Homo sapiens: one gene and its partners. The protein of the gene in region 2 binds, or shares a complex with, the protein of the main gene of each other region. Each region holds a gene or a part of one and is shown on either strand. Other genes may lie near its edges.

The links.
Region 1: CDHR5 (region 2) and MYO7B share a complex: the UniProt entries of both Homo sapiens proteins name them as parts of the IMAC/intermicrovillar adhesion complex.
Region 3: CDHR5 (region 2) and CDHR2 share a complex: the UniProt entries of both Homo sapiens proteins name them as parts of the IMAC/intermicrovillar adhesion complex.
Region 4: CDHR5 (region 2) and ANKS4B share a complex: the UniProt entries of both Homo sapiens proteins name them as parts of the IMAC/intermicrovillar adhesion complex.

What each region holds. Positions count from the first base shown.
Region 1 is NC_000002.12:127,629,665-127,636,688, reverse strand, and holds part of MYO7B (unconventional myosin-VIIb), read right to left. Parts: coding exon 6,863-7,024; intron 6,315-6,862; exon of another isoform or gene 5,912-6,314; coding exon 5,781-5,911; intron 5,484-5,780; coding exon 5,326-5,483; intron 5,090-5,325; coding exon 4,936-5,089; intron 4,444-4,935; coding exon 4,288-4,443; intron 3,432-4,287; coding exon 3,326-3,431; intron 2,514-3,325; coding exon 2,400-2,513; intron 2,094-2,399; coding exon 2,006-2,093; intron 1,570-2,005; coding exon 1,463-1,569; intron 968-1,462; coding exon 782-967; intron 482-781; coding exon 365-481; intron 145-364; coding exon 61-144; intron 1-60. UniProt on the Homo sapiens protein: Myosins are actin-based motor molecules with ATPase activity. Their highly divergent tails are presumed to bind to membranous compartments, which would be moved relative to actin filaments.
Region 2 is NC_000011.10:621,956-628,940, forward strand, and holds the start of CDHR5 (cadherin-related family member 5 isoform 1 precursor), read right to left. Parts: upstream 3,001-6,985; 5' UTR 2,948-3,000; coding exon 2,863-2,947; intron 2,778-2,862; coding exon 2,602-2,777; intron 2,309-2,601; coding exon 2,258-2,308; intron 1-2,257. Other genes in the region: SCT (secretin preproprotein), read right to left, coding at 4,476-4,575, 4,742-4,834, 4,933-5,034, 5,118-5,188. UniProt on the Homo sapiens protein: Intermicrovillar adhesion molecule that forms, via its extracellular domain, calcium-dependent heterophilic complexes with CDHR2 on adjacent microvilli. Thereby, controls the packing of microvilli at the apical membrane of epithelial cells.
Region 3 is NC_000005.10:176,580,330-176,587,353, reverse strand, and holds part of CDHR2 (cadherin-related family member 2 precursor), read right to left. Parts: intron 6,012-7,024; coding exon 5,772-6,011; intron 3,165-5,771; coding exon 3,095-3,164; intron 2,945-3,094; coding exon 2,339-2,944; intron 1,401-2,338; coding exon 1,329-1,400; intron 562-1,328; coding exon 512-561; intron 1-511. UniProt on the Homo sapiens protein: Intermicrovillar adhesion molecule that forms, via its extracellular domain, calcium-dependent heterophilic complexes with CDHR5 on adjacent microvilli. Thereby, controls the packing of microvilli at the apical membrane of epithelial cells.
Region 4 is NC_000016.10:21,236,680-21,243,703, forward strand, and holds part of ANKS4B (ankyrin repeat and SAM domain-containing protein 4B), read left to right. Parts: intron 1-7,024. UniProt on the Homo sapiens protein: As part of the intermicrovillar adhesion complex/IMAC plays a role in epithelial brush border differentiation, controlling microvilli organization and length. Plays a role in assembly of the complex.

The DNA of each region.
Region 1 (7,024 bases), on a different chromosome or scaffold from region 2:
CCACCTGCACAGGTCCCTGGACCTGGTGGCCCCCAGCCCCTCCGGAGGCCCAGCAGCTACCTTGGTCTTGGGGTGGATGAGCAGAACCCCATGTCGGTTGATGGCGATGAGGATGACGTCCGGGTAGGAAGGCTCCGAGGTTTGCTGGGAGGGAGGGACACGGCGGTCATAGTCCAGCCCGGGAGGCCAGGCTGCACCTCCCAGGAGCTCATCTAGGCCACACGCACATACACACATACACCCACGCCCTCCAGCCTCACGGCCAGCCCCACCCAAGATGTGTGCTGGTTGACGCTGGGCCTGCTGGGGCTGGGCTGAGCGGAGCCTGCTTGGGTAGGAGGCCCTGGCGTGGGGCAAGGTTTACCTTCACCTCGAAGAAGGCGGATCCGAAGGTGGGCCACCGGCAGATCCACTTCAGGAAGGCCACCTTGGCCTCCTCCACTGTCTTGTCCTTATGCTTGTCATAGGCTAGAAGGATGCTCTGGGGGACAGGAGGGCCAGTAAGGACTTGGGTGCCCAGAGGCCCTCCAAAGCCCTGGTGGGGGCAGCACCTGCCTACCCCAGGGCTAGTACGGTGGGGAGGGGAGGGGAGGAATGCAGCATGGGACAGTCTCGGTGCTGTGGATGGCATAGGAAGGCGTGGTGTGTGCAGAGCCAGCCCACCCTCCACACCACCCATGTGCACCCATGTGATCTTGGAGCCCAGGCAGGGCATGGCACTGGTGCAGGGGCCCAGGGAGGAGCAGCAGCACAAGAACCCTTCCCCAGCCCGACCAGGGACCTTTTTCCACTCCTCCGAGGACATCAGGCGTGTGAGGTTCTCAGGCACCAGTTCCCTCAGGATCTTGGGGACACTAGCCAGCTGGGACCGGTCGTTGTTGAACTGGGCCTTGTAGATGAGGCCCGCCAGGTGGATGGCATCCTCCCGCGAACACTTGTGGAATCCGCGCAGGTACTTGGGCAGCTCCTGGGTGATGGACACACTGGGCATGCTGGGTCTCCAGCTGCGGCCCACCCGCCCCCAACCTCTTTCCCGCTCAGATGGTGGGGAACTGGGGCTTAGCCCACTCCATCCAGGACGGACTGAGCAGGGTAGAGAGTTTCAGGCCAGGGGAATGACCCTGAGTCAGGGCAGGGCCCCCTGACATCTGCGTGGAGGTGATGGCCTGCTCCACCCATGTGGTTGGCCCTGCAGGCCACGGCCACTGCTCCATGGGTCACAGGACCCTCTGTCCCACCCTCTCCAAGTCATGCTGCAGGTGCCAGTGCAGTCACTGTCCCCAAACATTGCTGCCCTCTGCTCCTGGTTCCAGAGCCCTCAGGGGCTTGGTCTGCCTACCACATGGGCTGGTACCCAGGGCTGAGGCTGGCCCTGCCCTGGCCTGCTGGCTTCTACAGCCTCAGAACAGGTGTGGGAAGATGGGGGTGGCCCCAGTGCCCACCAGGGCAGCCTGCCCGGTACCTGGTGGTAATGGAGTATGGTGTCTGCATTCACATCCTTCCCTGGAGATATGTTGAGCCACAATTTCCGCATGAAGTACACCTGGTAGGGGAGCGTCACGGGGGCCCCTGGGCGAGGGCCAGCAGTGGGCACCAAGCCTGTCCCAGCAGGTACACCAGCCCTGACCCCCTGCCACCCCCCACACTGCGCCTGCCACCTCCCTGCCTCGAAAGCCCCCACGCTTCTTCCTCCCCAGTCCCCACATTTTCCTTCAATATTAGTGTAGAGGCTGCCTTCTCCAGGAACATTCCTGGACTCGCACTCCCAGCCCATGAGGGTCATGCCCCTCAGCCCTGGGGCATCCTTCATCACTCCAAGGTGCAGCCACCTGTTTCTGCCTGAGCTGGCCCTCACCGCCGGGCCCCAGGGCCTGGTTGTTCCCACAACCCAGGGACACACGGGAACGAATGGATGGATGAATGGGCATGGGCCGCACAGAGGCCGCCAGTGCCCCCTCGACCCACCCAGCCACGCCCTCCCCCAGCTCCACAGAGGCCTCCTCACCTTCTTTCTGGGGCTTGTTCTTCTTCACCCAGTCAGACACCTCCCTCAAGGAATCAAAGAAGAAGTCTCCCTCCTTCTGGCTGATGACCTGGGGAAGGGGAAGGTACAGGGAAGTTGGGTGGCTTCCGGGGACTGTCCTCCTGAGAACCTGCTGGGTTCTGGTCCAGTGGCCGCCTACGGCCTGGGTGCTGCGCTGGAGTCGGCTGTGCGTGGGCTATTGGCGTGTGGAGCTGGCTCTGCTCCAGGACCCCACCTACCTCTGTCCCAGCAGCCCTGGCCGTGCAGCCTGGTCCAGCATGGGTGCCCCTGGTAGGCTGAGGCCCCCACAGGCAGCACCTAGGGCCTCGCTCACTGCCCGTCCGCCCACCGTCTGCCCAGCCCCAGCCCGGCCCACCTTGTCTGAAATCTTGATGAAGAGGCTGCAGCCCTCCCAGGAGGCCAGCTGCAGCCTGGTGGCAATGCTGTCACACACATCCCGCACCCGTGTGTTGGCAACCACCTCCAGCATCTGGACAGAGAGGCAGCTGGTGAGGCCCGGGGCCTGGCTAGGGGCCAGTACAGCCCAGGATGAGCCTTCCTAGCCTGGCACTTTTGCTCCTTCATGAAACTTGGGTTGGATGTGGTCTGCCCTGAGCAGGGCAAGCCTCCCTTCCAGAACCCTGGCCAGAGGTTCATGTTGTTTAGTCCCAGCATTCGCTGTCCTGGGGCCCTGCAGGCCTGGCCTTTTGACTCGCCTTGAGAGCCCAGCAGCCAGACTGTGGGAACTTCCTGTTACCGGGACCCGAATATCAAGGCCAAAAAGACCATTGTGCTGTTGGAGAGGGCGCGAGGCGACACTGCCCACTTTGGCCTCTCAGCCCGCTTGTCTTTGCTGCCCCTGATCAAGGCCTCTGTGTCACGGTGGGGTCCTGGTGGTCTCCTACCTGCCCCCTGGCCCCTTTGTTCCCCCAGCAGCCATGGCAGGCTCTGTGCACAAGGCACACACAGTGGGAATACCTGCTCTCCTGCACCCCAGATGGTCAGAAGCCCCTAGGGGCCCCCAAGTCCTGGGACTCACCCTTGCTGCCCACCCCTCTGTCCTCTCCTGTGTCCTGGGCCTGGATCCCCCAACTCATACCTTGGGACTGGCCTGACTTCCAAAGCACCCAAGGGCAGGTGGGGCCTGCATCCCATGGGGAGAGGGCGGGAGACTGGTTAGGATGGGACAGCCCTAGAAAAGGCTCTCTGGGGTTACCAAGGAGCAGGCTGGGCCAGGAAGGAGGATGCCCCATGGCCTCTGGAGGCCTGAGACTTGCCGTGCAGACCAGAGCAGGGCCTCACCTCACTGGTGTCATTGGGGAAGTAGATCTTGTGGCAGATGCGGGAGACGTTCTGCTCTGCGGCCTCCACCTCCACCTGGTGCGGGGGCTGCTTCCGGGGCCCCGTCCTGAGGGGGACAGCGTGTGCTGCAGGTGCCACCCCCACCCTCATCCTCACCCATGCCCCAGCCCCGATGTGGGCCCTAAACCATGTGCCAGAAACAAAAGAAAACCCCAGTGACCATCACTGGGGTGGTTCCAGCCCCTCGCATGTCCTGGGGGCTGCCCCTGGCTCCACGCGGCCTCAGAGGTAGTGATGGTGCAGCTGTGCCTGAAAGCCTGGGGCACACACGGGGAAGGGCCAGGCCAGGGGCTCCCGGGAAGGCGCCGGCAGGAAAGGCTGGCAGTATTCTTATTCTCGCACAACAGGGGCATCGGGCAGGGGCCAGGGACTCTGGCAGGGCCTCTATGGGGCGCCCACCTCTCTCTGTGACCACGGCTGCCACTGAAATTATGGCCACTCCTACAGTCAACCTGCCCTCCTCACGGCCACAGGAGGCCAAGCCAGAGGAGGCAGGAGGGGTGGGGGAGAGCAAAGACGGCCAAGGAAGAGCTTCACGGCTGTGGGCGGATGAGGGAGGCCGCATGGACTTGGAAGGATGGGCCTCTGACCTCAGCCTTGAGGGCCTGGGCTGGGGCATCCAGGTTTCTCTCTATCCCTCAGGCAGTGCCTCTGTGCCACTGCTGGGCAGTGGTGGGGCAGGGGAGCTGGTGGCTATGACTGAGCCTTCTCTTGACCCTCCTGGGCCTCACCCTCCACCCTCTTCTCTGGCAGCTCGGGGCCCAATCCTGCCTGCCAAGCTGACACTGGCTTCTGGAGAGTCCTCCCAGGACCATGAGCTCCTGGAAGGCTGGCCAGGCCCCACAGCATCCCAGGTCTGCGGGCCCAGGGCCAATGCTGGGGGCTGGAGGCACTGGGCTCACCTCAGGACCTTCTGGATTCGGCGGCTGCAGTCGGGGGCCAGCAGCTTCCCCCTCCGAGTGTCTATAAACTTCTGGGCATGGGGCAGCAGCCCCTTGCTGGGCGGGAAGAGGCCCGTGCACAGCCACAGCAGCTGCCAGCCCCGCTCTTCGCTGTGCCTGAAGGGTAGCACTTGTCAGCCGGGAAAGGCCCCTCAGGGGGCCCTGGCCAGGCAGGCACCTTGGGGAGCAGGGACGGATGTGAGAGCTGCCTGGGGTCTAGAGGGCCCGAGGGGGAGGGCACCTGCCAGGCTGCACCATGCCAGCTGTGCCAGGCTGCCCGATGCCACGGGCTTTCACACCCTCAAGATGGGGGCGGGTGGGCATTGCACCCATTTTGTGGAAGACGACACTGAAGCTCAGAGAGGTCATGGCCTGCCAGGTCACACACAGAGGGTGGGAGTGGGCAGGGCCATCCTCTCCTGCTCTGACCACCCCTAGGACATCAGCAGAGCAGACCAAGGGCCCAACCCTTCCCACTGCTGAGGCAGGAGCCCAGGCAGGGGTTCTGCCGCCACCAGCTGCGGTGTCCTCTCTGAGCCTCGGTCTGGCCTCAGGGGCCGGGATGAGGACTGAGGGTGCCCGCGTGGGCTGGCCGCCGCCCCAGCAGACCTGTTGGAGTTGTGCGTCAGCTGCTTCAGGATCTGGCAGTAGACCTCGTCCTGGAGGGCCGGGTGCTGCAGGGCCAGTGTGAAGATCTGGTCGGTGAGCTCCAGGGTGGGCCAGGCCTGCCGAGAAGGGTAGTCGCCCATGTACCGGAGGATGGGTGTGGCTGTCAAGGAGCACAGTGCTGGGGCAGCCCCACGCTGACACAGACTGGGGATAGACGCTGACCCCGACCCCGGCCCTGCGGTGAGCCATGTGTGGGCTCTGTCCCGCCACTCCAGGTTTCTCAGATCTCCTGGGCTCTCCTGCCCTAGAGCACAGCTGTAGGGCCAGGATGTGCTGGGTGCCTCTGCCCTGGCATTGACGAGGTGCAGGCAGGCTGGTGGGGAAGGATATCGACAAAGATCTGGCAGGCGATGTCCCAGAGGTCGACGTTGGCGTGGACTCGCTTGAGCAGCGGCTGTCGCAGCGGCTCGCAGGAATAGGCCCACAGGTGGCCACGGGCACGGGCCAGGGGCAGCACGGCCATGCTCACCATGTCCTTCTCTGGAGCCCTGTGAGGTTAGAGGCTGGTGTGAGGCCTGCCCTGTGGCCTTCTCTGTCCCACGCTTCTCTGTCCTCTGACACCCCTGAGTGGCTGTGGGAGGGCCAGAGCACCCCACCCTGCCGCAAGCCCCTCCTGACTCCCCTGGCCTGGGAAGGCCAGGCAGGCTCCACATGGGTGGCGTGGCCTCTCTGCAGCTCTCAGTGGGTGCAATGAGGTGGAGCGGGGCTGGGAGCAGGGGGTGCAATGAGGTGAGGTGGGGCTGGGAGGTGGGGGTGCAATGAGGCGGAGCGGGGCTGGGGGGCACCTGAAGAACTCATAGGAGAACTCCTCCAGGGTGTGCAGCTTTTCCTTGGGTGGCTCCTCAGGACGTGGCTCTGTGAACTGCCCCTCCTGAGCCGCCAGCTTCCTCTTCTCTGGTGACATGGCAAGCAAGCTCTGAAGGGGGCACAGGCCTGTGGGTGCCCAGGAGCCACCGCCCATGAGGCCCTTCCTGCAGGCTCCTCCCGGCCTGGCAGCCTCAGTGACTTGGGAGGGGTCAGGCCCAGGGCTGAACAGGCCAGGGCTTACCCACACCCCTGTCACCTGCCGTGTGACCCAGGACCATGACTCTACCTCTTGGTGCCTGTCTCCTTTCCCTTGGGAGGGTGAGTGCCAATGGCTGTGGCACCCACATCACCCGTTCTGGGGGCCACGGCACTCTGGGTTTCTCAGACCCCCAGCTCCCCAGCTCCCCTTCTCCATGGGGCCACCTCTCACCCCAGCCCTGCCTGCCTAGTCTGCCACCAACTTCAGGCCTCAGCACAAATGTCCCTCCCTCGGGGATGCCTTCCCAGACAGGGTAAGTTCCCCACCCTATTATTTGTTCCTCTCCTTGGTGGCACTTTGCACAGTTGCCATCCATGTGTCATTATCTGCCCAAATGTCTGCCCTGAGGGTGGAGCTGCTATTATGCCCAGACTCGTACCACAGGCACAGGGCACATACTCAGCACTCAGTATGTACATGTTGCAATGCCTGCCATTCCTGCCTCCGGAGAGGCTGGTCTTGGGGGCTGGGGTGGGTGGTTCCCTTGTGCAGGGAGAGACTTGAGTCCCCCTGGGTCAGAGTGTAAATGAGGCAGAGAAAGATTGGGTTTGTCCCCCGGACACCCCCATGATGGAAGAGGGAGGGAACACCCATTTATTGAGGACCTACTAAGTACCAAGAGCTGGGCTGGCACTGCACACACACCTTGCCGCAGGAATGGTGGGGGCTGCCCGGGTGGCCCTCCTGGCCTCTGCTAGGTGGGCTGCAGGCCCTGAGCTAGGCCTCCCAACTAGGCATCCCAGGACTGCTCCACCCTGACCTCGGGTACCCAGGCTGAGGACAGGGGAGCGTGCCAGTTACCAGCAGCTGTGCCGAGGGCTTAGTGACCGTGGGGATGGTGTAGAGGCAGGCCATGGGCACCAGCCCCGTCTTGCCTGTCCTGTCGTTCTGGCCGAGGGTCCAGTTCTCAGAGGCCAGCAGCCCCTGCTTCTTTGTGAGGACCAACAGGTCCCCCTTCTTGAA
Region 2 (6,985 bases):
GCACCCCTCGACGGCTATCCGTCCCCACCGTGAGTGAGGTGCACCCCTCAACGGCCACCTGTCCCCGCCCTAAGTGAGGTGCACCCCTCGACGGCCACCCGTCCCTGCTGTGAGTGAGGTGCACCCCTCAACGGCCACCCGTCCCCGCCGTGAGTGAGGTGCACCCCTCAACGGCCACCCGTCCCCGCCGTGAGTGGGGTGCACCCCTCGACGGCCATCCGTCCACTCGCTCATTCAGTTGTTGGGGGGCTACAGGGGCTGCACAGCTCTAGGCGTTGGGATTCAGAGATCACAAGAGACAAATCTCTGCCTGGTGGTGCCTGTCCTGGCAGGACTTATAACAACAGACAAAAAGGACTTTATAAAGCCAGGAGGTGGCAGGTGCTCCACAGAAAAATAATGCAGGTACTTGGGGATGCAGCCAGCAGAATCTCAGGTGAGGAAAGACAATCCATTTTCTTTTCTCTGTTTTTTTTTTTTTTTGGTTTTTGTTTTTGTTTTTTGGTTTTTGGGTTTTTTTGGATACAGTCTCGCTCTGTCGTCACCCAGGCTGGAGTACAGTGGTGTGATCTCGGCTCACTGCAACCTCTGCCTCCCAGGTTCAAGCGATTCTCCTGCCTCGGCCTCTGCCCACCTCGGCCTCCCAAAGTGCTGGGATTACAGGTGCCTGCCACCATGCCCAGCTAATTTTTGTATTTTTAGTAGAGACGGGGTTTCACCATTTTGGCCACATTGGTCTCGAACTCTTGACCTCAGGTGATCTACCCGCCTCGGCCTCCCAAAGTGCTGGGATTCCAGGTGTGAGCCACGGCGCCCAGCCAGGACTCTTCTTTTTAGAACATAACCACAATGTCGTTGTCACACCTGGGAAAAGCGGTCACTTTCTACCTCAAATGTCCAGGATGCCACATTCCCCGTGGTCTCTGAAGGGTTTTTTAACAATTGTTTGTTTGAATCAGGGCCCACATTATGGACCTGGTTGGTAATTCTCCTGAGTTTCTGTTCATCTGTACCTTTCCCTTTCTCCCATCTTTTTTCCTGGAGATTTATTTGTGAAGAAACTGGATTGTCAGCCGGGCACGGTGGCTCACACCTGTAATCCCAGCACTTTGGGAGGCCGAGGCGGGCAGATCACCTGAGGTCAGGAGTTTGAGACCAGCCTGACCAACATGGAGAAACCCCGTCGCTACTAAAAATACAAAAATTAGCCGGCCGTGGTGGCGCATGCTTGTAATCCCAGCTACTCAAGAGGCTGAGGCAGGAGAATCGCTTGGACCCGGGAGGCGGAAGTTGCAGTGAGCCGAGATCGCTCCACTGCACGCCAGCCTGGGTGACAGAGTGAGACTCTGTCTCAAAAAAGAGTCTCTCTCTTTCAGAGACATATCCCAAGATATGTGCAGGTGACGTGCCGTGGTGCATGGAGGGCACAGAGCCTGCTGTGTGCTGGTAGGTGAGGGGGCCTGTGCTGGCCTCAGGATTCTGCAATTTTCCTTAATAAAGCCGAAAAAAATGCCGCCGGTCAAGAAGCAGGATGTTGGGGGAGCGGGGCTGGGATGCAACAGGGCATAGGGTGGTTGGGATTTCTCTGAAGACTGCAGTCCTGAGCCGGTGAGGGAGGGGCGTGCCTGGCGGGAGCCCTGAGGCTGCAGTGGAGCCTCTGCACAGTATGTCTGGGTTTGACTCGGTGAGAAAGGAGCCGTGGAGGGCTGGGGTGGGCTGGGCAGCCTTGGTTTACAACATCCACAGGGGCTGTTCTGCCACGTGGAGTGGACTGGGGCCAGCAAAGGGCAACAGGGAAGCCGGTGGGCCAGCTGGAAGTTTCCCAAAATGAGTGCTGGTGTCCCGGCCCTGATGGGACTGGAGGTGGACAGACTCTGGATTTCTGGGTCGAGCTGGGGCACAGCCAACAGATTTACCAGTGGGGGGCTGTGGGGGACACGTGGGGAGGGAGGGCGAGTGGGAACCAAGGTGGTCCCCGTGACTGGCAGGATAAAGGTGCCTCCCTTGTGGATGGTTGAGGGAGTGGGTGGGAGTCTTGGGCACACTGGATGGGGTGTCTGCTGGACAAGGGGTCAGTGACGGGGACTCCACAGCTCAGGGCAGAGTCTGGACTGGAGGAAATGTGGGCATCACCCTCGGGGGGGTGGAATTTGAAACCACACCCTAGCTGACGTCATCAAAGACTGGTCCTGGACCGGCAGGGCAGAGCCCAGCAGAGGTGGCCGGGTGGGGCGGGGAGAGCGGGGCGGGGACTCACCAATGTGCCTCCGCTCTGACACAGCAGCTGAGCCTCAAGCAGTGACTTCTCCTGTGGATGTAGACAGGTCTGCAGTCACCGTCCTGCCCCACAGGTGGGGAGACTGAGGCCAAGTGGGCAGGCGCTGGCCCAGGGTCCCCATCATCAGTGGTCAGTGCTGAGGGTGTGGGCCCAGGCAGCTTCATCCCGAAATGGCCCAGCCTTCTAGGGCAGGCACCACCAAGCATGGGTGTCAGTGGATGCCCGCAGGCATAGAACTCCTAGGCCCCCAAGGGAGGTGTGGCCTGAGGATGCAGGTGCCCTTCTCCCGGGACCCCCATATCCCGCCCGCCTGCCGCCCACACCTCGTAATCAGGAGTCACGTTGAGAAACAGCTGGTTTCCCTGGATCCGAAATGCAAAGGGGGTGGACAAGGCTCCGAGGGTCACCTCCTGGCCCTCCGGGACGTGGATGTCCACCAGCGGCTCGGTGACATTTGTGTTCTCCTCTACTTCAAAGATGTCCTTGTTCACAGAGCAGTCTGTAAGGTTGCAGAGGAGGGATCAGTGCCTCCCAGCCCCTGGCTCCCCGCCGCCCGTGCCCCACCTACCCCTGCCCGCACATACACTGGGCCTGGGCCATGGTCCCCGGGGGTCGGACGAGCAGCCCGGTGAACAGCAGGGGAGGCCACAGCAGGGCCCAAGACCCCATCTTGGCGGCTGTCACCTGGCAGGAGGGTCTGAGCGGGTCTGGCGTCTAGGACTGGCGCAGTTCCTACCTCAGCGACCTTCGCCCCAGCCAGACGCCGCCCAGTTTATGATCCTTTACGACCGGCTTCTGCCAAGGGGGCTCCCGCTGGCCGGCTGGTCCAGCCCACTGCCAGAAGGAGGGGCAGTCGTTTGGCCCAAGTTGGACTGAGTGCAGGGGTCAACCAGGGGGCTCAGGTCACAGGCACCGAGGCACAGGGCAGAAGGGACTGGAGAGCGGCTCATGGGTGCCGTGGGGGTAGGGGCAGGGCAGGGGCAGGGCTAGGGTGTGGGAGAGAAGCTGGGGGCTGGGGGCGGGGGCTCGGCCCTTGGTGTCGGGGTGTCTGGAACCTGCCTCCCTAGCCCAGGCTGCCCTGGCTTGGCTCCTCCCCTAAGATCTCCCTCAGGCAAAGTTCCTAAGGCCACCCCTTGAGGCTCAGAACCCGGGTGTTCCCCAGGGAGCACCTCCCTCCCTGCCTGACAGCAGGTTCTGAAGGAAAAGGCTCTCCTCACTGTGTCCTGGGGACACCCCTGCCTGCCCCAGAGACAAGTCGGCTTCTCAGGGCGGGGCTGGACAGGGCCTTAGTGACTGAGGCTAAGGCGGGGCTGTGAGGGGCAGCTGGGAGTTCCTGGGGGGCCCTGGTGCCCGACAGAGGGGGTGAGGTGAGACTCGACACTTGCCCTGCTCTTTTCATTGGCCCCCCAGAAGCCCCCAGCTCTAGGGAGAGGCCACTGGGTAGGGTCGGGGCGAGGAAGTGGCTGTCGTGAGGGGTAGGTGGAGTTCTCCTCCTCCAGGCCTGTGCGCCGAAGCTTCTGGCCTCTCATGGCTGGGGCTGGGCTCAGTGTCCTAACCCTGCACGGTGCCCTCATGGTCGCCTTCAAGCCCTGCACGCTCCGTGCTCCACAGGCTCTGAGGGGTCAAGCCACTGGTCCGAGGCCACACGAGACAGAGGGTCCGGAGTCCTCACGCCAGAGTGGATTCCTGGCACCCCAGGTGACACCTCCACCCTCCCCTCTTCCTGCCCGCCTGAGCCCCCCTGGCCCCTTCACACCCTCCCCACTACCCCTTACAGAAACACTGACCACATGGGCCCCCGGGCAGGAGCTGAGAGGGTGTCCGGGATCCCCCGAGCCCCAGAATGTTTCCTAATGGATGACAAGGGGTGGGGCGGGGCCCTGCAGTACTTAGTCGAGGTACAGGAGGTGGCCCTGATGCCAGAGATAAGGATGAGGGGCCGCCGTGCCTGCAGGTGTAAAGGGCAGCTGGGTGTGGTCAGTCCCTCCTGGGTGGATGGGCCTCCATCCATCCCTCAGCCCCGCTACACAGGGGTTGCCTCGATTACACTGAGTGGACACAGACAACTCCCAGCGTCTGGGTCTGATTCCTCCTTTATTGGTGCCAAGTACCACCCCTCCCCCTCTCCCCCATCCTGCCCCCCACCCCAAATGCAGCTGCGCTCCTGGGCCGGGCAGGTGGTGAGGGGGTTCCTTCCTCATCTGGGCCGCAAGGTTCCTTCTGCAGCAGCGCCAGCTGGTTCTGAAACCATAGGCCCAGGGGGCAGCCAGGGAGACCAGGTCCCGTCCAGGGGCATCCTGCAGAGACAGCACGTGAGGGTCTGAGGGCTGGGGCTGGAGACCCCGGCCCCGCTGCTGGAATTGGGCCTCCAGTGGCCACCAGCGCTGACCCGGGGAGGCCAGGACAGAAGGAGGGGTCTGGGGTGGGGTCTGGAGTGGGGTCTGCGGTGGGGCGGGTGCTCACCAGGCCTGCAGGATGGGCATGTTGGACCCTGACGGGCAGAGCAGACCCGCGCTGAGCCTGGTCCAGGCCATGCTGTTCTCTGCGTCCTGCTCGCTGCCCCCCGCCCCAAAACAGAGTTAGTCCTGGAGCTGGGGGGTCGCGCGTTGCTGCTGGGGCACCACGCCAGGACCCCCCACCCCACCCGGCCTCACCTGCGCTTCCCCACCAGGCCCTGTAGCAGCCGCTGGAGCCGCGCGCCCTCCCGCAGGCGGCTGAGCTCGCTGGTGAACGTCCCGTCTGAGTGTCGCCGGGCCCTGCGGGCGGTCGGGGGTCGGGGTCAGGGCGCACTGGGGGCGGGTGGGGCCCGGGGGGCGGGCGGGCCTGGCGGGCGGCTCACCTGGGGGGCGCGGGGCGCGCGGCGGAGCCCCCGAGGAGCAGCAGCAGCAGCAGGAGGGGCCGGGGGGCCATGGCGGGGTCGGGGCGCAGGAGCTGAGCGCTGCGGCCACGGCCCCGGGCCCCCGCAAGGCCCCTTTATGGCGGCGCCCGGAAAGGGGACGGCCCGGCCGCGCCCAGCGATCCCGGGAAGGTCAGGGCCGCCCCCCCAGCTGTCGCCCCGGCCCGGCCTCCCGCCCCCTCCGCCGCGCTGGCGCCCCTCGGCCGGCTGGGGGAGGGGGACGTCCCGGCCTGGGGGGCGAACGGAGCGCGGGCCTGGGACCCGCAGAGGGAACCGCACCGCGAAGCCTCGGAGCCTGCGGGGGCGGAGGGGCCGGAGGGCTTGGGGGAGGGTTTGGGGGGGGACTGGGGGGCCCCGGGGAAGGGGCTGCGGCCGGAGTTCCGGAGGCCCCTGGAGCACCTTGCTGGGGCGAGTTCGTCTCCAGCTTCAGCGTGGCGTGACTGTTGGGGGGCCGGTGTTGCCATTTTATCTGCTTTGAAGTGCGCGATTCAGGATCATTCGGTGCATCCATCCCCACCATCCGTTCTCAGACTTTCCCGTCCTCCCAAAATCCGTTCACAGACGCTCCCGTCCTCCCAAAATCCGTTCACAGACGCTCCCGTCCTCCCAAAATCCGTTCACAGACGCTCCCGTCCTCCCAAAATCGTTCACAGACGCTCCCGTCCTCCCAAAATCGTTCACAGACGCTCCCGTCCTCCCAAAATCGTTCACAGACGCTCCCGTCCTCCCAAAATCCGTTCTCAGACTCTTCCGTCCTCCAAAAATCCATTCTCAGACTCTTCCGTCCTCCCAAAATCCGTTCTCAGACTCTCCCGTCCTCTCAAAATCTGTTCACAGACGCTCCCGTCCTCCCAAAATCCGTTCACAGACGCTCCCGTCCTCCCAAAATCCGTTCACAGACGCTCCCGTCCTCCCAAAATCCGTTCTCAGACTCTCCTGTCCTCCCAGAATGAAGCTCTGTCCCCATCAAACGCCCCCTCCCCTCCTCAGCCCCGGCGCCCCGTCCACTTTCTGTCTGTGGATTCAGCGCTTCCAGGGACTGCGCGCAGGGGGAGCCTCACGGGATTTGTCCTTTGGAGACCGGCTGGATTCTCAGCGCAGCATCCTCCGCCTTCGCCGCCGCGGCCTGGCCTGTGTGGGAATCTCCTTCCCTTTTGTGGGGAACTGTGTCCCGCTGTGTGCAGGGACCGCATCGACCGCGTCCGCTCATCTGTGGGCATCTTGATGGACACCTGGGCTGCCTCCCCTTTGGGGCGACGGCGAGTAACGCTGCTGTGAACGTGGGTGTGCAAACGGCGCTTCCCGATCCCGTTTTCAAGCGTTCTTGGTGTATAGTTATGAGGGAATTGCTGGGTGACAGAGTAATTATGTGTTAAATATTCTGAGGAAACGCCAAACTGTCTTCCCAGCAGCGCAGCAGGGACACGGTTCTTGTCCTCGCCAACACTTGCTACTTTGTGGCTTTTTGTTTGTCGCGTACTAACGATGCCGGTGGGTGCGACGTGGTGTCTCGCTGCGGTTTTGATTGGCATCTCCCTAATGGCCAGCGATGTGGAGCATGTTCTCAAGTGTCTGTGAGCCATTTATACATCATGGAGTGGACGGAGAAATGGCCGTCAAGCCCTTTGATGTTCTGCTGTGGTTGCGAGTCATGCACTGTATCCGTCTGTTAAATCAGCCACAATATTTTCCCCAGCGTTTGCATCATTTCACAGCCCCGCCAGCAATGTGGGGCTGGCTGGCTGGCTGGCTTGCTGGCTTGCTTGCTTTTCTTTCTTTCTTTCTTTCTTTCTTTCTTTCTTTCTTTCTTT
Region 3 (7,024 bases), on a different chromosome or scaffold from region 2:
GCCTCAGCCTCCCAAGTAGCTGGGATTACAGGCATGCACCACCACACCCAGCTAATTTTGTATTTTTTAGTAGAGATGGGGTTTCTGCATGTTGGTCAGGCTGGTCGCAGACTCCCGACCTCAGGTGATCCACCTGCCTTGGCCTCCCAAAGTGCTGGGATTACAGGCTTGAGCCACCGTGCCCAGCTGGCTCTGAGAATTATTTAATGACAAGGCACTGGCTTAATTTACAATTAGCTATGAGTTCTCTGTATTACTCAAGAATTCTGGTATAGTAAGAAATATCTGGACTGCAAGTGGTATTTACGGTCATGACATTTTTATGAATGCTACATTTATCACAGTGAAGTTTGATTACATTGATTAGACAGGTGTTGGTTTCCCTTCTGGGGTTTTCTTTTTCATGTGTTGGAGCCCATATATTTTCTTTCTACCATGGAAGGCCTGAAGGCCTCAGCCCTGTGTCCCCTGGGGCTCATATGACCAACAAAGGCTGGAGCCAAGAACTTACCCGGACAGAAGCCACCTCCCGGTTGGGCAGCACGAGTTCAGGGATGATCACTGCAGGTGTGAACGGGAACGGGGTCAGCGGGGTCGGGACACTGCCCACCTGGACCAAGGCTGGTCACGAGCCCAGCTCAGGGCTCATCCCCCTAAACCTGCCCTCAACCTCTCTACCAAAAGAGACCCCTATTACAGCCACCACTGGGCCAGTAGTTAGCAAGTCATCCACCTCCCATTGTCACAGGTGAGGTCACAGGCCCACAGGACCATGCGGAAATGGAGGCCCAGAGAGGGAAGTCCTGGCCCAGGGCCAGACATTAGGTCGGACAGAGCTGGAATGAAAACTCCAGTGTTGGCTGGGCATGGTGGCTCATGCCTATAATCCCAGCACTTTGGGAGGCCAAGGCGAGCAGATCACTTGAGGCCAGGAGTTCAAGACCAGTCTGGCCAACACAATGAAACCCTGTCTCTACTAAAAATACAAAAATTAGCCAGGTGTGGTGGCGCATGCCTGTAGCCCCAGCTACTCTGGAGGCTAAGGCATGAGAATTGCTTGAACCTGGGAGGCGGAGGTTGCAGTGAGCTGAGATCGTACCATTGCGCTCCAGCCTGGGCGACAGAGCAAGACTCCGTCTCAAGAAAAAAAGGAAAGAAAAAAGAAAACTCCAATGTCCTCTCCTATTGCAGCCCTAGGAAGATGCAGGATTAGAGGCCTTCCCCCCTTTCTAAAGGCTCCCCCTGGGGTCCAAGGAGGGTCTGTCGGGGTTGCTCAAAGGCGGCCTTATGGAGCAGGGGTATGGTGTGTGAATGGGGTTGCTGCTTACCAAAAGTCTTATTCTCAGGCAGAAAATAGGGTGCATTGTCATTCACGTCCTCAATGGTAATGAGGAGGCTTCCTAGGAGACAAGGTCAGCTGGCTTTGGCTCTGGGCAAAAGCTTGACCCAAAGAGCCTGGGCCTCAACCCTGTGCCCCACAGCCTCAACCCCATGCCCCGCAGCCTCAACCCCGTGCCCCGCAGCCTCAACCCTGTGCCCCGCAGCCTCAACCCCGTGCCCCGCAGCCTCAACCCCATGCCCCGCAGCTTCTCTCCCATGTGTTCCCCCATGCTCAGTCCCCTTCCCTGCTCCTGACCCAGAATGCCTGATCGGTCTTCTCTGGCCTGTGTGGGTGGGAGTATCATCCCAGACCTCAGAGCAGATAAGCAGCTTGTCAAAGTCACACAGCAATAGTGGTGGGCCAGGATTGGGCCCAGCCTAGGTAGATCTCACCTATGACATTATACTGACACATTCTAACTATATAAGCTGGTTGTTTAAATACCCACTTTCTGCCTCAGTTTCCTCATCTATAAAATTGGATAGGGAACACCTACCCCATGGGTTGTGTGGAAGTGGAAAAATTCTTACAAGGTGCCTGGTGTAGTTCTTGGCTGTCATAAGGACTCAATATATGCTAGTTGTTAATGTGATTATTATTGCTATTTGGTGTCAGAAGTGGGATACAAGCACACATCTAGCTCTGCAGTGTTATCTTTCTTTCACAGCATCTTGTAAAATAATGGCATTAATTTGATGCTACTGCATGCCAGGCACTGCAATAAATGCCATACATCCATATTCTCATTGAATCTTCACAGCCCACCCCACTGCCCAACTCCACTGGACAGATGGGGAAACTGAAGCTTGGAGAGGGTTTGGGACTTTCCCAGTATTTGCAGCTGGAAAGGGCTGGAGCCAAGATCTGAGCCCAGACCTTGTGAGTTCCAGCCCAGGGCTCCTTCCCGCGGCCCCTAAGCTATGGCCTGCCAAGCCCTGCAAGGACAGGCTGCCTTACCATTGTTGCTGTAGGCCTGGAAGCCGGGGTCCGTGGCTAGGTCACAGGCCCGCACAACCAGCGTGACCAGGTCACAGGCCTCGTAGTCGATGGCTTTGCTCTGGTTGATGTACACAGAGCCGTTGGCCGCCACTGAGAACCAGCCCCAGCATAGGCTGCCCACATCGACCCCGGCCTTGGTGCAGAGAATGTTCACAAGCTGTATCTCCAGCTGGGCACTGGTGTCCACATCCGAGGCAACCACCACAGCCACCTGGCCGTGCTGTGAGCCATTCTCAGCCACACGGATGCCCCGGAGTGAGGCTACATCCAGGGTGGGGGGATTGTCGTTCACGTCTTTCACATTCACGCAGACGTCTACTATGGTCTCACCCCCCTGGGGGTCTGGGTTCTCAGCACTCACTGTCAAGTTGAAGACGGGCTGTGTCTCGTAATCCAGGCTCACGTCCGGGGGCAGCCGGAGGTAGCCCTCAGCCCACCCAGCCCCCAGCACCAAGCCTCGGATCATGAAGTAGTTGGCACCACTCCCCGACAGGCTGAAGCTGATGCGGTTGTTGGCTTCCGTCTGGTCCGCGTCCCAGGCCTTCACCACGCCCACTAGCACTCCTGTGGACAAGGGGCAGAGCTCAGAAGGACTCCTGACCCCGCCATCGGAAGCCTCCTCTGCCCTTGCCTCTCTTGGAACTCGAGGTCCACCCTGACAAAGCCACACTGGGTCCCAGCCGCAGTGTCTCTCCTGGCCCAGGGAGCACATACCTGGATCCTCCTCCTTCACCGTAAAGTTGTAGCTGGACTGATTGAAGATGGGCAGGTTATCATTGATGTCCTGCAGTCAGAGACAGGTCTGAGTCCCCGGGATCCAATCTCACCCTCCCCAGAGCCAATCCGAGAAACCAATAATCCCTGTGCTCCAAGGCATGGACTCTACTAGTGCCTCAGACCTCACTGCCCACTTCCCAGATGAGGAGACAGGCTCTGAGAGGAGGGAACTTGCCCAGGTCACACACCCGGGGTTCAGGGACCTACAGTGGGACCTTGGCCTTACACATCCATCCTCAGGAAGCCCTGCTTGCTTCCTGTTTCTCTGACCACAGCTCAGGACTTGTTCTAGACCCTGCTTTCTAGAAGCACAGTTCTGGGTCCCCACCTGCGACCCTGCCTGGCCCAGCTTGACTCCCATCTCTCGGATTTATTGTGTTGGCACCAATACCATTATATGTCCACAAAGGCTCCAAGGCCCACACTTTCCCTTGTCCCCTCCTACCCCTGTCCCTCCTGCACACAACTGAGCCCACAACACCAGCTCTGTGCTCAGTCAGAGCTGGGCTCCGGGGACCTGCAGAAGCTTAGACCTGCTCCTGCCTCAGACACCAGCTGTTTTTGGCTCTCACCTCTGTGGCCAGCCCTAGCCCACTGGGCACAGCTGGAGCCCTGCAACTATTGTCACAGCCTGGAGGTGACTCTGCCCTCCCCTATGTCTCCTAACACTGGCATGTGCTTGGGGGATGCCCTGAGCACTCCAGCCCTTCCCAGGTTTGTGGGTCACATAACAGGTGTTTGTTTTTCTGAATAACCCTAGAATGAACATTTGGAAGACAACATTCTTGCACCTTAGCTAGATGTCTTTTCTGCTGCTAATTTCCCAGCGATGACATCATTGGCTCCACGCACAAGACCAGCTGCATTCTCAAGGTCACCCTAACTCACAGGAGTGGATAAGAGCACTGAGTCACATCTTGCTCCACCTCTGCCTCATGTGTGACCTTGACCTCTCTGGACCTCAGTGTCCTCATCTGCAAAATGGGGTAGTAGTCCCCACTAATAGGGCAATTGTGAGGACGGCTCACAGGGGTGAAGAAACCTGTTCACTCAGGAAATGAAGTTCTCTCTTTGCAGCCCTCCCACCCTAAGGACAACCAGCAAGTCCTCATTCTGCTTCGTTTTCTTCATTTCTGAGGTCTCACTCTCTGACCCTTGTGTGAAAATGGCACATCCCAGTCCAGGGGACACAGGGCTGCTATGTGCAGTGGTGCAGGCTGTGCACTGCACAACCCTATGGGGTGCCATCCACATCACAGACACGGCAGAGGTGCACATTTGTCACAATACTGTTCCAGAGGAAGGTGCCTTGTGGGCTGGTGGCAGCCTTAGAACCAGACTGATTGAAGTCAAAACCCAATTTTGTGACCCCCAGGCAAGGTACTGAACCTCTCTGTGCCTCAGTTTCTTTTTTTGAGACAGGGTCTTGCTCTGTCTCACAGGCTGGATTGCAGTGGCATGATCATAGCTCACCGCAGCCTCAACCTCCTGGGCTGAAATGATCCACCTGCCTCAGCCTTCCAAGTAGCTGGGACTTCAGGTACATGCCACCATGCCTGGCTAATTTTTTATTTTAGTAGAGATGGGGTCTCGCTATGTTGCCCAGCCCAGTCTCAAACTCCTGGGCTCAAGCAATCCTCTCACCTTGGCCTCCCAAAGTACTGAGGTTTTTGGCATGAGCCACAGCAACTAGGCCCGCCTCAGTTGCTCAATCAATAAAACGGTAATAAACCGGGCTCAGTGACTTATGCCTGTAATCCCAGCATTTTGTGAGGCTGAGTTGAGAGGGTCGCTTGAGGCCAACAGTTCAAAATTGGCCTGGACAATAAGTGAGACTCTGATTCTATGAAAAATAAATTTTAAAAATTAGCCAAATTAGCCAGGCATGGTGGCACGCATCTTTAGTCTTAGCTACTTAGGAGGCCAAGGCGGGTGGATCGCTTGAGCTCGGGAGTTCAAGACCAGCCTGGGCAACATGGAAAAACCCCATCTCTACAAAAATAAAAAAATTAACCAGGCATGGTGGCATATGCCTATAGTCCCAACTACTCAGGAGGCTGAGGCAGGAGGATCGCTTGAGCCTGGGAGGTTGAGTCTGCAGTGAGCCATGATGGCACTATTGCACTGCAGCCTGGGTGACAAAGGGAGACCCTGTCTCAAAAATAAATAAATCAATAGATAAATAAATAAAAACAAAATGGTAATAACCATCCCAACCTTGGCGGATGCCCTGATGTGCAATAGACACCAGCAATGCTGATTTTCACCCCTTCCCTTTGCTTTTCAATGGTGGCAGGGAGACAGGAGGGTTTCAGGTGGGACTTTATGAGTGACAATTAGAGCTGATATTCACTGATACTGTCTATAGGTCAGGCACTCTACCAAGCACTTTCCATTCATTAACTCACTTAATCTTTAACCTTTTTCACCCCCGTTTTATAGATGAGGAGCCTGAGTGCCTAGGGAGGTTGAGTAATTGCCTGGGGCCATACGAGTGAGCGGGATTGTAACCCAGGCAGGCTGGCTGCAGAGGGCAGAAGTGTGACTCAAGCTGGAGGGGCTGGCTATCGGCTTGGGAGGCCCCCAGGCCCATCCTGGCTAAGCGAGGCCTTACCTCCACAGTGATGGTGACATTGACTTTGGTGCCGAGGACAGGCTCGCCGCAGTCAGACACAAGCACTGTCAGCACAATGCGGCCCTCCAGGGCGGGGTCGATGGCCTCTCTGTCCAGGGGCCCCAGGTTTCTGAGGAGCCCTGTGTCAGGGTCCAAGGAGAAGTTGTGGCTGTAGGGGCCAGGCAGCAGGTTGAAGAGCAGACGGCTGTTGTTGGTGCCCGGCTCATCATTGTCGTGGGCCTGTGCACGTAAGCAGGGGTTGGTCATCGGCCATCGGCATTCCCAGCCCCCAGCCCCTCCGATGCAGCCGGACCCTCCTCTCCAGCGCTGGCCCACGCAGGCAGTCATCAGGCCTGGAGCCCCTGGGCCCATCTCCCAGCCCCAGTTTCCCATCTAAGAGGCTCAGGTCAGCAGTTTGCAAGAGCTTCTGAGATCTTCAGCACTGAGGCCATTCTTTCATCTCACAAACGGCCACTGTGGACCTACGTGCCCAGCCCCGTTCCAGGTGCAAAGAAAGAATAGAGCCATCATCAAGACAGGCCCTTTTGCTACTGATATTCTAGCAGGAAGGGGGATATGGGGGCAGGAAATTGTAGACAAAGAAAGTTTTAAACTCATAAGTGTGAAGTCCAGCAAGATTCTCATTTTCCCATAATGACTACTTCAGTGCTATATACATATTTTTTCTTTTTTCTTTTTTCTTTCATACAGTTTCGCTCTTGTTGCCCAGGCTGGAGTGCAATGGTGCGATCTCTCTTGCTCACTGCAAACTCCTTCTCCTGGGTTCAAGTGATTCTCCTGCCTCAGCCTCCTAAGTAGCTGGGATTACAGGCACCCACCACCACACCAGGCTAATTTTTTGTATTTTTTAGTAGAGATGGGGTTTCACCATGTTGGCCAGGCTGGTCTTGAACTCCTAACCTCAGGTGATCCACCTGCCTCAGCTTCCCAAAGTGCTGGGATTACATACAGGCGTGAGCCACCACGTCTGGCCCTTCTTTTGTTTTGTTTTGTTTTCTTTTTTTTCTTTCTTTCTTTCTTTTTTTTTTTTTTTGAGGTGGAGTCTCACTCTGTTGCCCAGAGTGGAGTGCAGTGCCATGATCTCAGCTCACTGCAGCTTCCAATTCCTGGATTCAAGTGATTCTCCTGCCTCAGCCTCCCAAGTAGCTGGGATTACAGGCATGCACCACCACACCCAGCTAATTTTTGTAATTTTAGTAGAGATGGGGTTTCACTATGTTGGCCAGGCTGGT
Region 4 (7,024 bases), on a different chromosome or scaffold from region 2:
AGATTACAGGTGTGAGCCACAGCACTCAGCCTGGTTCTGCTAGTCTTTAATTACAAAAGTAACATGAGCTGAACCCAGAAAATTAAACCATACAGACGCACACAAAACATGAAGAAAAAATGTCCTATAATGCCATGCTACTAAGATGTATATAGTTCTCTCTATATATACTATAGTGCATACAAATACATTTTAATATTCTTCTATAAATTTCAGGGACTTTGTAGGACTCTAGTCAACAAATACATTTCTTAGCCAACCCCTCTTTTGGACACATAGTTTGTTTTCCCTAGTTTGAATAGGGCTATGATGACTATCCTTGTACATAAATCTTTGCTGACATTGTCTTTTGTGTTTTTTTGAGATGGAGTCTCTCTGTCACTCAGGCTGGAGTGCAGTAGCGTGATCTTGGCTCACTGCAACCTCCACCTCTCGGGTTTGAGCAATTTTCCTGCCTCAGCCTCCTAAGTAGCTGGGTCTACAGGCGTGCACTACCACGCCGGGCTAATTTTTGTATTTTTAGTAGGGACAGGGTTTCACCATGTTGGCCAGGCTGGTCTCGAACTCCTGACCTCAGGTGATTTGCCCACCTCGGCCTCCCAAAGTGTTGGGATTACAGGTGTGAGCCACCGGGCCTGGCCACATTTTCTTGAGAATAAATTCTCCAAAGTGAAATTTCTGGATCAATTTGCATTTGTGTTAGTCCATTTGTACTGCTATAACAAAATACCTTAGATTAGGTAATTTATAAAAACCAGAAATTTATTTCTTACAGCTCTGGCAGCAGAGACATCCAAGATCAAGGCACCAGCAGGACTGGTGTCTGATGACAGCCCTGTCTCCGCTTCCAAGATGGTGCCTTGTTGTTGCATCCTATGGCTGTGTCCTCACATGGAGGAAGGGAAGGAAGGGGCAAAAAAAAAAAAAAGGCAAATTCCCTGTGTCAAGTCCTTTTATAAGGGTGCTAACCCCATTCATGAGGGTAGAGTCTTCATGACTCAATCGTCTCCTAAAGGCCACACTGCTTAACGCTGTTACATTGACGATTAAGTTTCAACATGAATTCTGGAGGAGACACATTCAAACCATAGCAGCATATGTGCAATTTAAATAGTTTTGTGTGTGTGTAAATGGACATGCTGTCCTTCAGAAAGTGAGTACCCATTTTGGCCAACATGATAGGTCCAAAATGATATATTAGGCTGGGCGTGGTGGCTCACTCCTGTAATCCCAGCACTTTGGGAAGCCAAGGCGGGCAGATCACTTGAGGCCAGGAGTTCGAGGCCAGCCTGGCCAACATGGTGAAACCCCATCTCTACTAAAAATACAAAATTAGCATGGTGTGGTGGTGCACGCCTATAATCCCAGCTACTCAGGAGGCTGAGGCACAAATTGCTCCTGAATCCCTTGAATCCGGGTGGTGGAGGTTGCAGTGAGCCGAGATCAGGCAACTGCACTCCAGCCTGGGCAACAGAGTGAGACTCTGTCTCAAAAAACAAAACAAAACAAAACAAAATGATACACCAGTGTGGCTTTAATGTTCTTTTCTTTGGTTGCCGATGAGGTTGAAAATTCTTTTTATGCTTAAAAAGAATTGGCCATTGGATTGCCACTTTTGTGAACTGTGTATTTATAACTTTATTCCCCATTTATATTGGGGTTTTCAACCATTTCTCCTTGATTGATAAAAACACTTTTGAAAGTTAACAATATCAACTCTTTGTCATATAGGTTACAACTGTTTTACAATACACAATTTATATTTTTGACAACAGATTTTTAAATATAAATGTAAACATAAATATATATATATATATACGTATAAGTCTATCAATCTTTGTTGTGTGATTCTAACTTTGAGGTCATGCCTCAATACTGACTGATCCTTTAGTGCTATTTTTAGTTTCATTTGTTATTTTAAATACTTTATATAATTTAAGATCTGAATTATGATCTAACTCTGCATTCTCCAAGTGGCTACTCATTTATTCCAACACAATTAGTTGTTATAGTCTATCTCTTTCTCCACTAAGTTGACATGGTAACATCATTTCTTTCAATGTAATATAAATATCCAGTCCCCCCAATTTGCTTATATTAATATTTATTAAACACTGGCTATGGGTGCAAATATTCTTCTAACCTTGTTTTTCCTAGTCCTTCCTTCTCAACTCCTTTCTTCTCACGGGATCTAGTACATCTCAGATTTGTTTCATTGCCCTCAAAAGCATCTGGGATCTGCTGTGTTGAGCAGGCCTGATGTAGGCTAAAAAAAAGAACAGAAGTCTTGTGAGGTGCCTTTTTGACCATAGCTAATCCTGGGAACCAGTGTGAGGTCAAATTTCCAATTAGATTTAAGGAAGCTGAAAAGGGAAGAAAATTACCATCTCACATCAGTCAGAATGGCTATTATAACATCAAAAAATAACAGATGCTGGTGAGGTTGAGGAGAAAAGCGAACACTTATACACTGTTGGTGGGAGTGTAAATTAGTTCAACCATTGTGGAAAGCAGTGTGACAATTGCTCCAAGAGCTAAAAGCAGAACTACCATTCGAGCCAGCAATCTCATTACTGGGTATATACCCAAAGGAATATGAATCCTTCCACAATAAAGATACATGCCTGGATCATGCCTGTAATCCTAGCACTTTGGGAGGCCGAGGCGGGTGGGTCATTTGAGGTCAGGAGTTCAAGACCAGCCTGATCAACATGGTGAAACCTCATCTCTACTAAAAGAAAAACACAAAAAATTAACTGGGCGTGGTGGCACACACCTGTAATTCCAGCTCCTCAGGAGGCTGAGACACAAAAATTGCTTGAACCCGCAAGGAGAAGGTTGCAGTGAGCCAAGATCACGCCACTGCACTCCAGCCTGGGGAACAGCAAGACTCCATCTCAAAAAACAAACAAACAAACAAACACATGCATGTGAGTGTTCATTGCAGCACTGTCACAATAGCAAAGACATGGAATCAGCCTAAATGTCCATCAATGACAGATTGGATAAAGGAAATGTGGTACATATACAGCATGGAATAGTATGCAGTCGAAAAAGAATGAGATCACATATTTTGTGGGAACATGGGTGGAGATGGAGGCCATTATTCTTAGCGAGCTAACGCAGGAACAGAAAACCAAACACCACATATTCTTACTGATAAGTGGGAGCTAAATGATGAGAACATGTTGGCTTAGTGCCTGGGTGACAAAATTATCTACAACAAACACTCGTGATATGAGTTTACCTATATAACAAACCTGCACATGTACTCCTGAACCTAAAATTAAAAAAAATTGAAAATTGAATTTAGAAGCTAATCAACTATTGAAATACTGAAGTCCATTTCAGTCTGATGATTTAAGAGTTTATCTGTCATTACCTGATAGACAACGAATCCTATAGCAACCATTTATATTAAAACTCTGGCTTTGTTAGAAAACTATTTTCCTTTGTTTTTAAAATTTGAAGATGGAAAACAATCATTACATGTATTTTCCTGCACTAGGAAGCATAATGGCCCAATTACAAAAAAAAATTCATTTTACCTTTAAAGTGTATGAAATTTCTTGGTTTTATTTTTTAAAATGGAAACTAGACTTTTTCCCCCAGATTCTTTTTTTTTTGTGATGGAGTCTCGCTTCTGTCGCCCATCCTGGAGTGCAATGATGGGATCTTGGCTCACTGCAACCTCCGCCACCTAGGTTCGAGTGATTCTCCTGCCTCAGCCTCTGGAATAGCTGAGACTACAGGTGCCTGCCACCACACCCCGCTAATTTTTGTATTTTTAGTAGAGACAAGGTTTCACCATGTTGGCCAGGCTGGTCTGATTCTTAAAGAAATACATACTTATTGTAATATTTCACATCATATTGAATAGAATTGATAAAGTAAAAATTATACCAATTCCTACAGTTATCAACATTTGGGTACATATCCTTCCAGACTTTTTCCTTTGAGTACATGCAAACACATGTACATTCTCTCCCTTTAAAAGACAATCATATAAACTATACTGAAACCTTCTAATTATTTAACAATATATCATGGACCATTTGCACTTAAAAGTTGAGATCCACGCCACTATTTTATTTTTTTTTTAATAATTTCAACTTTTTTTTTTTTGTGAGAGACAGAGTCTTGTTCTGTCACCTAGGCTGGAGTGCAGTGGCACAATCTTGGCTCACTGCATCCTCCACCTCCCAGGTTTGAGTGATTCTCCTGCCTCAGCTTCCCAAGCAGCTGGAACTACAGGTATGCGCCACCATGCCCAGCTAATTTTGGTATTTTTTAGTAGAGACAGGGTTTCACTATATGTTGGCCAGGCCGGTCTCGAACTCCTGACTTCAGGCGATCCACCTGCCTTGGCCTCCCAAATTGTTGGGATTACAGGTGTGAGTCACTGCACCACGCCAGTTTCAACTTTTAGATTTAGAGGGTACGTGTGCAGGTTTGCTGCATGGGTACACTGCATGGTGCTGGTGTTTGGGGTATGACTGATCCCATCACCCAGGTAGTGAGCATGGTACCAAATAGTTTTTCAACCGTTGCCCTCCTCTCATAGTCCCCCGTGTCTGTTGTTGCTATCTTTACGTCTGTGAGTACCCAATGTTTAGCTCTCACTCATAAGTAAGAATATGCGGTAGTGGGTTTTCCATTCCTGTGTTAATTTGCTAGGGATGGGATAATGCATGCCACTATCTTTAATGACTTCATGGTATTCTGTTTTATGGTGTTTGTTTGTTTGTTTTTGAGATGGACTCTCGCTCTGTCATCCAGGCTGGAGTGCAGTGGTGCGATCTCAGTTCACTGCACCCTCAGCCTCCCAGGTTCAAGCAATTCTCCTGCCTGTCTCCAGAGTAGCTGGGGTTACAGGCACATGCTACCACCCCCACTTAATTTTTGTAGTTTTAGTAGAGATGAGGTTTCACCATGTTGGCCGGGCTGGTCTCAAACTCCTGGCCTCAAGTGATCAACCCACCTTGGCCTCCCAAAGTGCTAGGATTATAGGCGTGAGCTACTGTGCCTGGCCAGTTTCATTATTTTTATTAATTAACAAAAATTATATATATTTATGGTGTACAACGTGATTTTTAAAAATATGTATACATTGTGGAATTAAGTCAAGCTAATTGACTATGTGTTATCTTCTATACTTTTTGTGATGAGAACATTAAAATCTACTTGGTAGGCAATTTTCAAATATACAGTGTATTGTTATTAACTATAGCCATTGAGCTGAGCATGATGGCTCATGCCTGTAATCCCAGCTCTTTGGGAGGTTGAGGCAGGAGGATTGCTTGAGGCCAGGAGTTCGAGACTAGCCTGGGCAACATAGCAAGACCCCATCTCTATAAAAAATAAATAACTAATTTTTAAAAAAACTATAGTCATCATGTGTTACAATAGATGTCTTGTACTTATTCCTCCTGTCTCACTGAAATTTTGTATCCTTTGACCAACTCCCCAGTCTGCCTCTGCCTAGTTACCACCATTCTACTTTCTGCTTCTAGGAGACTTTTCTTTTAGACGGAGTCTCACTCTGTCACCAGGCTGGAGTGAAGTGGCACGATCTTGGCTCACTGCAACCTCCGCCTCCCGGATTCAAGCAATTCTCCTGCCTCAGCCCTCCCAAGTAGCTGGGACTACAGGCACGTGCCACCACACCCAGCTAATTTTTGTATTTTCAGTAGAGATGGGGTTTCACCATGGTGGCCAGGATGGTTTCAATCTCTTGACCTCGTGATCTGCCCACCTCAGCCTCCCGAAGTGCTGGGATTACAGGCATGAGCCACTGCGCCCAGCCTCTAGGAGACTTTTTTAGATTCCACATTTAAGTGAGATCATGTGGTATTCGTCTTTCTGTGCCTGTCTTATTTCACTTAACATACTGTCCTCCAGGCTCATCCATGTTGTCGAAAATGACAGGATCCGTTTGTTTCTTAAGACTGGATAGTATTCCATTGTGTGGAGCCACCATGTTTTCTTTATCCATTCTTCCACTGATGGACACAGATTAATGCCATAATATATGTAATCAGTTGACTATTCATGTTGCTTAATTTGAACCCACTCTTTTTCCTGTTATAAGTAAGTTTGGGAGGAACATTCCTGCTCATTCATCTTTGCACAAAGATCTTATATTTCCTTAGGACAAATTCCTAAATGTAGAATTGTAGATTCAAAAGAGTGCCTCATTTTAAAGGCTTTTTGTGTGTATTGTGCCAGGAAATTTGAACCACTTTCTGCTTCTTCCAGCAGTATTTCTTTCCCCATACTCCTGCCAAAACCAAGTATTACTATTCTTTTTAATCGTTGCCTATCTGATTGGCAAAAGGCAGAGTATTGTTTCAATTTGCATTTCTTTGACTATTAGTGAGTCCAAATATTTCTTTTTATGCAGAAAAACGTTTTTGAAAGAATAGTTGAGAACTTCACAAAAAATCAACTTCAGGAGGAAAAATTGGAATGTAACAGATGCTCAGGGTAATTTAAGCAAATTGCCTACTTAGTGACAGTAGTGCTAAGCCAGCTTTAAAAACTATTGCCCAAATGCACTGATCTACCAAAAATCAAGGGAAAAATGGGTTATTTTAAAATCTCTTCAGTGAGTTTCTCTTTTGGGGAAAAGGGAAATAGAAAAAAACAACACTAGACTGAGCTTAGCCCACGAAAACCGTAGAGCATCAATGTTGAACTCAGATTATCAAACGACAGGACTAGTTTTCCACCCAGGCAGTTGTATGCAATGGTTCTATCAAGAAATGTGAACAATGACAAGTATGGAATTTAAAAGGACTCCATGCAACTTGTCTGTAGAAAATATTTCCATTTAAATTGTACATCAATTTGGAAATGTGTCTGTAAGTAGAAGTTTTGCAAGTTTTTTGTTTTGTTTTGTTTTGTTTTTGAGACGGAGTCTTGCTCTGTTGCCTGGGCTGGAGTGCAGTGGTGTGATCTCAGCTCACTGCAAGCTCCGCCTCCTGGGTTCACGCCATTCTCCTGCCTCAGCCTCCCGAGTAGC